2 separate regions of the Homo sapiens genome follow, and region 2 is linked to region 1. Evidence: fine-mapped expression QTL. A gene starts in region 1. The other region holds a variant in brackets. All regions are shown on one strand. Distances are from middle to middle.

The links.
Region 2: its variant is fine-mapped to the expression of GRB10 in whole blood (TOPMed, PIP above 0.99).

Annotation. Positions count from the first base shown.
Region 1 is chr7:50,780,475-50,785,672 of GRCh38, forward strand. GRB10 (growth factor receptor bound protein 10) reads right to left here and starts at 2,422. Exons shown (of 19, transcript NM_001350814.2): 1 at 1,950-2,422; 2 at 153-262.
Region 2 is chr7:50,708,644-50,713,841 of GRCh38, forward strand. The region is part of intron 4 of GRB10 (growth factor receptor bound protein 10); the gene reads right to left. Among named protein-coding and RNA genes, the nearest start is that of GRB10, 72 kb to the right of the region's middle. The variant C/A (reference allele first, on the strand shown) is at 2,984.

The DNA of each region.
Region 1 (5,198 bases):
CCCAGTAGTTACAAGGCCCAGAACACCACATCAGTTCTCAGACTTTATACTTGTAAGAATCACCTGGCATGCTTTACAAAGACAAAGAATTCCAGGTCCCAAGCCCAGAAAGTCAGTTTCGTAGCTCAGAGCTGGGGCCTGGGGATACATACCGAGAGGCAGTCAGCTCTGATGTAGGTGGTTCAGAGGTCACACCTTAAAAACCCTGGTCTCTCCTATACATTCTTCCTCCTGAGAATTATCAGAATGCAGCCTCCCAAGTCTGAAAGAAAGGTAAAACCATTCTAGTCCAAGCGAGTTTCCTAAGACATTCTTACTAAGTCACAAGTACATACTCCAAGAAGCTGCCTGGCTTTTGTGGGAACACAAGTGTCAGTGAATTTAGGCTGTGGCCTAAATATGCAAATTTTGGAGCCTAACCTCCAAAATTCGAAAGATGCAGTGTTCTCTCGAAGTTTGGAAGCCTAGTTCTGGGGTGGTAATTACATGATGGCTGGAGGAGCAACTGGTGATGGAAATCCTTAGGAGACACTAAAAATAACTCACATTTTAATCGACCAATCTGGAACTTCTCTCACCCCTTCATGCCAATCGTGCAATTACCATAACTCCATTCACCATGTTCCTCAGCAGTTAGTATGCACCATTCTCAGTCCTACAAGATAGTAACTATTATCCCTGATTCACAGGTCCAGGTACAACGGCAGGTAGCACAAGATGGGGAGGGGACTGAACCACACTGCACTCACACCCCACCCTACAATTAAAAACCGTCCTTCAGCGCGTGGCTGCCGAGCACCTCAAACTGAAACAAGTGTTCTTTACCACCTTTCTCTGGAGTGACAGAGAGAAAGAAAATCCCAGTAAGCCCTTCTGGCCCTGCCCACCACCTCCCCTGTTCCCACCCAGGCCAAAGGGGGAATGCGTGGGCCCTGCTCCCACCCCCGATGCTGACATCAAAGGAGCAGAGACACGCAGGAGACTCCAGGCAGCACCCGAGGCCCTGGCCGCCAGCACGTCATAATCCCTGCAGTCGCTGCCTTTCAGACTTAAAAAGAACAATGAGGAAAGACACCCACGCTTCCCCTCACTGGGCTAGGAAGGAGAGCTTTGCGGGTTTAGACTGCAGTCTCCCCCGCCCATAGCCACCTGTGTGCCGGCTCCGCAGACGAGGTCCCCCCAGCACCCTGGCAGGGACTGTACCATCAACAGACAAATGGCAGCCGACCAAGGAGGCGACTGGCGTGTGGAACAGGTGATCCGATTGTTTTTCTAAAGAGCAAGGGCTAGGACGTCCTACGTGTTCATATGCACAATTTTTTGAACTCCATCAAGAACACGAACCCCATGCCCACATCTTCACTGCTCAATTCACATTGTCTGATATGCACCTTCCAGGGAGAAAGAGGTTTTCATGGAGAAAGAGGCAACGTTGACTATACGTGTTTACTCAAAGCTTTTTTATACCGGACTATATGCCATCCAGGTTTAAGAGAATTCCAGGCAGGCTCTAGCATTATGTTTTTCACAGAAAAAGCCGGTGCAGTAGCCCGGATGCCCAGATCCACTCATTTCCCAAACCGGTTCCCACACCCGCTGCCCACCACCTGGCGAGGAAGGAGCGGGCGAGGTTCGCTCGAATCGTCGTCACGGGTTTCCGTGGGTACAGTTATTACTCGTTACATAATATTAAACAATTAAGATTAAAAATGGTTACATAATACTGTCCTATGGCTGGCGGCAACGAAGCTCGGGATCTCGGACTGCAGCGAGCCCGCGGCAGGCGGGCAGGGGGCCGCGCGGCAAGACCTCCCCGCCTCCCTCCCGGGCCCTGTCCGCCGCGGCCGGGGCCTCTGCAGCCTGCGCAGGCCGATCCGCCCGCCGCCCCGGCTCGCGCCCACCGCCCACCGCCCACCGCCCAGCGCCCGCGGCGGAGCCCACCTGAGTACCTGGAGAGCGGGCGGCAGCACTGGCCGCACGGGGTCGCTGCGTGTGCGCCGCCGGCCCGGGTAGGGCTTCGGGGCCCGGCCCCCGCAGTGCCCGGCGCGTGGACAGCGCTCCGCATGGACAGCGCTCGGAGCCGGGCCGGGCTGGTCCTCCACGGCTCCGCCCCGGCCAGGGGCCTGCGGCGCAGAAAACCGACCCGGGGCCTCGGGGCCACCGCGCGCCAGGCGAACGCGCTAGCACGAAAAGCGGGCCAACGCCGCCTCTGGGGACGCCATCCGGGCGAGGGTGGGATGCCGCGCCACCGCCCGAGCGTGCCCGGGGGCTCCCAGCGCCATCACCACGCAGGTGCCCGGGGGCCCCTCCGCGGAGCCGGCTGCCGCCCGGCTGCAATACTCAGCCTCCGAGGGACTGGGCGCTCCTGAGGAGCGGGAGGACGACGGAGCAGCGCCCGGTCCTGGAGCACAACAGGAATCCCAGGACCAAACCCATGTGACGCGGCCACGCCCCAACGCCCGGCGGGGGCCCTCTGCTGCCCAATCCCCGGATCCCTGGTTCTCATGGCAACCCTGAAGAACCCCTTGTTCCCTCCACTGCCTCCTCTCCTCCCCCACAGCCCCCCCGCCTGATGGGCAAGGACGCGCACACTGGCCACTCTGACGATGCCGAAAGCCCTCCATGTCTACCCGCTACGCCGCATTCGCAGACAGGCGGGGGACATCGCGGCCGCGGCAAGCTAGAGATGCCGCCTGCTCGAGCAACCTTCCACCTGCAGGGCCGGCCAGTTCTACTCTTCCAGGATCACTCTCGTCTCACCCTTCTCCCCAAAATGTCAGAGCAAGAACCAGGAAGGGAGAGGCTCTTTCTGGAAGCCACAGGCATAACGTTACTGAACAACGAGGACAAAGTAGGGTCCCATTTAAACTGAGAGTCAGCGAGGGAAAGAACAGATCCTATACATACCAAGCATCTGCTATGTGCTAGTCACTTCACACACACACACACCCCACACACACCTCACACACACACCACACACATCCCACCCACCCACTCACATACATACACACCACACACATACATACACACCACACACACACATACACCACACACACACATCACACATACTCCCCCACCCCCGCACACACATACACCACAGACATACACACGAGCCTGCAATGATGGAAGCAAAACAGAACGTTTGGAGATATTCACTGCCGTTTACAAGGCCACAGTAAGCAGTAAGCAGATTTTCTACTCCCCTCTAGCAGAGAACATGGTAGGAAAAGCTAGACATTGTAGACAGCAGTAAGAACCTAACAGTCAACAGTGGACAATGGATTCTGAAACTGAGATCCTATACTGCATTCACACACGTTAAGGGGCAGGGCGCTGGGAAAACCCCATCTCAGTCTGGGGTTCAAAGAGTGGAAAAGCTACCCTAGTCCAACTGCTCGGAGGCCAGGTCAGGCCCCTGAAGGTCACTGGAGGAGGAGGCTGGAAAAAGTGCAGATATGCACTCCAAAAGGAGAGGTTCCACGGTGGTCATGACCACAAAATTCCAATATGTTTAAGTCGATCAAACAAAAGCAGAGTTAAGGCTGGTTCTGAAAGCAGCCAAGAGCAGTTTTCAACACAACACAAAGGGTAACACAAGGCTTTCTTTTCTCACAGTCCGGGCTGACCACATATGGCCTGGCTACTGCAAGAAACATTGAAGGTGTTAGCGCTTTTGACTCTAACTGCGCACCCCTCAGAGAAGATGTCACATAGTGAACATCGCAAGGCACAGAATGGGAAATGGAAGCACAGAATCAAACCCTGAGATTCGGGGAGAAACCAAAGTGTGGAGAAATTATGTAACTTATCCAAAGTCCAGAGCAGGTTACTGACTGGGAGAACTTGGCTTTCCTTCCAGACTCCAGATATGAGACTTTTCTGCGGTCTGACACAGTGGCTTCTTCCACCTCTGCAGTCAACCCCACAAAGGTGGCTCGAGTGTTCCTCTGCCTCCCTGCCCAGCAGCTCCCAGCCTGGATGGTGAACTCCTTTGCCTGAACATCCCACGCACCCTGCCATCTCCTGGGCTAGAACAACAGGTTGTGCAGGACAGAGGGCTTCCCTGCCACACTCCCCTCTATTACAAAATGCCAGAGGTCCCAGTTCGAAGCAGCTGTTCCTGGATGTGGGAAGAGCAAGAGAGAAATGATCTAATGATGGACAAGGAATCTTGAAAAGCCAGACCTTCACTGAATGGCTGACAGGACACACATTTTGCTTTACTAGAACAAGAACAGAATCTTTGAAAAGGCATAAAAGCCAGTGGTCAAGAAGTAACTGACAGCAAAGGCAAAAGAGATGAAGGCTAAGCTGGAAAGTGGAGATGAAGCCTGATGATATACTCAGTGGAAGCCCAGAAAGTCTCAGGAATGAGAACTACCATTCACCTCTGGAAATGGGAAACGTAGAGTCCAAAACAAGAAGATTAATCGGAAGTGTCAGGAATAGCTGGGCCCCATTTCATCCCGGGTCCTCTCCCCAGCTCCATCAGCTAGGTGACTTCTTTTCTGGAAGCAGGGACACAGGTCTCTGGACCAGGATCAGCAGACACAGCCATGCCTTTAGTCCCAGAAAGATTTGGTGGATCACATGCTAGCTGCCATATGAATCCCACCACCATCCCCAGCAGCTCCTGGAGCAGCACCTCCAACAGAACTGAAAGAGGCTCCTGCAGAGCTGAGAAGAGACCCAAAAGCATGAGCCCCACAACAAGCAACCAGGCGTCCATCCACAGAGGCCACAGTTAAATGCTCACTCACACAGGGCTCCTGTCAGCTTCTGAGCAATGTCCTTTTGAAAGTGGGAAGACCCCAGACAGCTAAGCGAAGCCTCTAAGGTGAAAGATGTGGCCAAATTGCATGGGACAAACACTTCCTATGCCTCACCTCCCTGGGCCCTGTCCACAGCTCTATTGAGCCGCATCTGATGGGACCCCTATGTCCTGCAGCACAGCCTCCTCCTACCAGGGCTCTGAAGAGCCTGTACACCCAGCACCTGCAGGGATGTAGCCCAGATGCAACCCTGGCCCATGGTGACGGGCACTGACAGGAGATACATCCTCCACCCCAACCCCTTCCCAGCACTGTCTGGAGGACTGGGAGCTCGTGACACAAGCCAGCCCCACATGTGGAACCATTGGCTTCACTCAATTCTAGGCACTGCCCACCGCGGGCACCCCGCCTCACCCTGCACCCAGG
Region 2 (5,198 bases), 72 kb before region 1:
GAAGGGAATGGGGGAGGCCCTGTGAGTCTGTTTTTTTTTTTTTTTTTTTTTGAGACAGAGTCTCACTCTGTCGCCAGGCTGGAGTGCAGTGGCGTGATCTCGGCTCACTGCAATCTCCACCTCCTGGGTTCAAGCAATTCCCCTGCCTCAGCCTCCCGAGTAGCTGGGACTACAGGCACGCACCACCACACCTGGCTAATTTTTTGTATTTTAGTAGAGATGCGGTTTCACTATGTTGGCCAGGATGGTCTTGATCTCCTGACCTCGTGATCCGTCTGCCTTGGCCTCCCAAAGTGCTGGGATTACAGGCGTGAGCCACAGTACCCAGCTGTGAGTCCGCTTTTTACTCAGAGCCCTTAATCACTATGCTCTCTACCTCTAGGGGAAGGTGAAAGGATGGGAGAGGGCAGCCAAGCTCCTTAATTAAAGTCCCACAGGTCACTTCACTAATGCTGAACTTTCCCAAATCCACATGCTTTAGAAAAACTTGCCAAAGTCAGAACAAGCCCATCCAGCAAGATCAGGGCAGAAACACCACCTTCATAAAGATGAACACGAGAAGCCCTCCCTCTCCTAGGGTGACCCAGTCCCAGGCCCTGTGCTGAGCCATCTCCTGTAACAGAGCCCTCCAGTGGGTGAGGAGAATGGTTTCTGTCTGCTCCTCCATCCTGTGCCAGGCAGTGAGTCTGCCTGAGCTGCATCGACCAACAGCTGGTCCTCTGGCCCCCAGTGGTGGGCGGCCGAGGGAGCCAGGCCAGGCAGGAACATGGCCCGGGAGGCCAGCTGGGCTGTTCCTTCCGTAAGCCACGTTTTGGGGATTGCACAAATGCCCCCTGGCCTCACTCCCTCTCCTTGCTGGCCTCAGGCTGGGACCCACAACTCAGCTGCTTTCTCCAGACCCCTCCATTAAACTCTTTTTTTTTGCTCCCCACCCCCACCCCGCGCCCTCCGGAGGGTGCCTGCTGCAGACTGCCGAGACCCTGGCTAACAGAGGCAGGTGGCTTAACTTCCCTCACTCTGTGGATTAAGGGCTGGAGGTTTCAAAGAGTACACATAAAAAGTGACTCGTGGGAGGAAGAAAATGGTGAGCTGTGCTGTGGACTGTGGGCATGCCTGTTAGGGTACCAGGTGGCCTGGTGTGGCTGGTCCTCACCTTGGAGAACATGGTAGAAATGCAGGCTCCCAGGCCCCAGCCAGAGCTGCTAAGTCAGGCCCATGATGGGGGACCCAGGTGTCTATGTGTGAACTGCCCTTCCTAATGTAACGTGGCTCATACCTCCATGGCACTCTAGGAGCCACAACCCAGCTGGTGTTCCTTGACTCCAAAGTGACTGCTGTATGCCTCTCACAGCACTCGGCCCTGGGTGCTCACTATGTAGAATGTTCTCTACCCCATCCACCATGCACACCCCATCAACCCATCCTCAAGGCTCATCCCTTTGGCACTTTCTCTGACAACCCCAACGAAAAGTCTACCTCCTCGTACCTTACCCAGCAGCCCTGCTTTAATTCCAAGCAGGAAGTAACAAGGGTGAATGGATTGGTGCCCACCCTCTCCCCAGAAACGGGCCTCCTTGACTCATCCTCACAACCCCAGCACATGGCCCAGCCTCACCCCAAGATCTTGGGGAGAGAAGCCTCTGCTTCTCTGTGAGGATAGAGGGACAAGAATGCTCCACCACCCACCTTTCAAAGCCCAGGCTTCAGCAAAAAGCATCACAAGGTAGCCTGGGCACAAAACAGCGAGGAAGCAGCCCCTACCACCAGTCATTGGCGTTCCGTTTCAACTAGAGCATCAAATGCACTCTTGCCTCTGCTGGGTACCAACTAAACACTACAAGATGCACAAGAGGAACCAGCCCCAGAGAACCAGGGTATGTTGTTCATTGGGCGATTCAGGCAGTTTTCTTATCTAAAACTGCAACACACGGATGGAGGGGCAGCGGGAAAACTGGATGAGAGGAGTGCCATCATCAGTGCGGCGGGCACTGCAGGTGACAAATGGAAGGACTGCACAGCAGGCTGGACACTGGCTCAGATCCCAGGCCCCCACATGCTGGTTAGTCTTGGGACTCAGGGCAACTGCCTCACCTTCGGGGTATCTCCACACCTTCCTGAGGCAGAACGACCACTTCATAGGTCACTTCTGAGGTTCAAATTAAAATAACATAAATAAAGGGCTTGCCCAGCAACTAAAGGTACTGAGTGTTCGGTAGACAGCGGGCACTGACCTTACTACGGAACAGAGGGCCGGCAGCTTGCATAGGAGGTCTCTCTCTCCCTCTCTCTACAGTGGGTATCACGTGGCTGTGTCCTCAGCCTGCCCTGTGCACAATATTTTCAGAACCTGGAGAACGGCACAGAAGGCACACTTAATAACTCCACTAAGGTAAACAAAGACCAATGCCACAGAGAGCAGAATGACAGGGATTCGAAATGTCTTCCACCTGGGAGAATGCCCGATCATAACCTACAGGCTTAACAGGGATCAACTTTAAACATTACAGGTATGCAAAAACAGCCAACCAAATTAAAAAAAAAAAAAAAGCAACAGATGAGAACAGTGGATGAGAACTGCTCCTGAGGGTGCAGTTAAAAGGGGCTCTCCCAGCCCTCCCCCACCCCCTGAAACCCTCTCCTGCAGCTACCCTCAGATTTTTGGTGCAAAGGAGAAGACGCAATCCTACACGACCCACCATCCGGGTCCCAGAGCTCCCTGGGGCCTTCCTGCAGGCAGTTTCCCAAACCCCTCCTGCCCAGCCAGGGACATCAGCTGAGACGGGTGGGGCACATTGCTGGAGTCCACCCAAGGGCGCTGAGTCTGCAGATGAACATGTGAACTGCAACAGGGATGGGGTTTGTCATTTCACACAGGATGCACTTAAAGAAGTAAAATGTTTCAAACCGCAAGTCTATTAAGCTATTGCAGCCGAGTGAAGAGTGACTACCTGTGTCACCTGCATTTTGAAAGCGGAGGCATCAC[C/A]CAGCTCATCAGTTCCCTTCCAATGCCTGATACCCTCTCTACCAACTGCACATATGCCTGCTCTAGAACTCTGAACACACACAAGCCGTCAGATACAGTGTAGTTACAGATTTCACAACTACCCTCCCTCAGCCATGTAATTATACTTTTATTAAATATTAATGTAAAAATGGCAGGGTTTCTACTAATATTATAGTTCCTGGGTACCAGGTACGGTGCTAGACAGTTTACACACATTCCCACTTAAATCCTGTCTCTAATGGGTACTGTTGCTACCTCATCTTTACAGATGAGGAAAAAGGAGGACAGCAGCTTGCCCAGCGAATCACATCTCGTAAGCGTGGGTGTGAGACCCATTGGGGCTGAATCAGAGAACATGTCCTTAACAACCGAGCTATGGGTAACTACAAAATCTGTCACTCAGAGAATTCCTAAAACATGCAGAAACTCCACAAGGCTGAAAAAGGCTGAAAAAAAAAATCCTAAAACATTAGTGAACTTGGTAAAAGCTGCAGTATCAGCACTCCTATTCTGCCAGTTGCAAGGTGTACAAAACTAGTCCCTCAAATGGAAATAACCTTCATAATAAATGAGCCAGAGCCATTTTTCTCACCCAAAGTGACACTGCCTGTTTTGATATTACACTTTAGGTCTATGCAAGAGGAAAGGAAGCAAGAGGTTTTTAAGCAGAGATTTCAGTCAAACTGATCCTTAAACAAAAACAAGAGCTGCTTCCACCAAAAGCCTGAGATGGGGGAAAAAGAAAAGTCAGCAAGCCAGGTGTCTCGTATCAAGGAACAAGGGGGATGCTCTTTACTTACAATTGTATTCACACAGGCTGCTGAGGCCAACATGAAAATATCTGGGCAAGCCCTGGTCAGAGTACAAAAAAACTTTTCTCCCAAATGGTAAGAATGCCTGGCCTGGCAGGGAAAATACCACCACATAAAAAATGATCACATTTTCACTAAAATCATACGGCCTAAAAAACACACAGATCAGTGGCTTGTACTCCATATTCAGGCACTTATTTCCACATAACTACCTCCAAGTGCAGCCATTCTTGAATTAAAAGCAAAAGTAGTGCATGAGCTGCCTCACTTTAACCACCCACTCTGCAGTGTTCAGCACAGAAACATCAATTCTGGTTATTCACAAGGGGAGGAGTCTATCAATCATTTACATTTTAAACAGCTCTATTGAGATATAAATTACATAACATAAATTTCATCTGTTGGAAGTGTACAAACCAATGAATGTTAGTATAATTAAGGATCTGTACAACCATCACCACAATCTAATTTTAGAACATTTCCATCACCCTACAAAGAAACCTCCTGCCCAGAGCCTGTCAATCTTGACAAATGGTTTTCCCAAAATAAAATGCCTTTGCCAAGTCAGTTTTGTTCCTGTTTTTGCATCTGGTATTCCCACATCAATGAGGCATTTTGGCCGAAAGGGGGACAGCACTAGCTCTAGAATTTCTACAGAAGAGTAGCTACATGACCTTGGGGAAGACATTAAACCACCCTGTGTGAGTATAACCTCCAAGGACTATTGAAGATTTAGTGTGATCACACATGGAAAGCACGGCTCAGTAAATCTCAGCTGCTATTTTTACTACTGCCACTACTGCCCCTGCCTCCTCCTCCTCTGCGGTCACTACCTCCCCTCCCGACATTTCCACCAGCACTCCACCCCTTCCCACCACCTCCTTCCATCTCCATCACTTCTCCTGCCACATCAGCTCCTCCTCTACCTTCTCCACCTCCTCCACCGCCACCTCCATCTCCTCTACCACCCCCACCATCATTTCATTACCACCTCCATCATCACCTCCAGCACTTCAACCAACTCCTCTACCATCTCCACCATCTCCTCTACTATCTCCACCATCACCTCCACCTCCTCTGCTACCTCTATCACCTCCACCTCCTCCACCATCTCCATCCTCACCTCCACCTCCTCTACCATCTCCACCATCACCTCCACCTCCTCCACCATCACCTCCACCTCCCCCATCACCTCCACCTCCTCCACCACCACCTCCACCTCCTCCATTGTCACCTCCACCTCCTCCATCCTCACCTCCACCTCCTCTACTATCACATCACCTCCACCTCCTCCACCATCTCTATCCCTCACCTCCACCTCCTCCATCTCCTCTACCACCTCCACCATCACTTCCACCATCTCCACCATCACCTCCACCTCG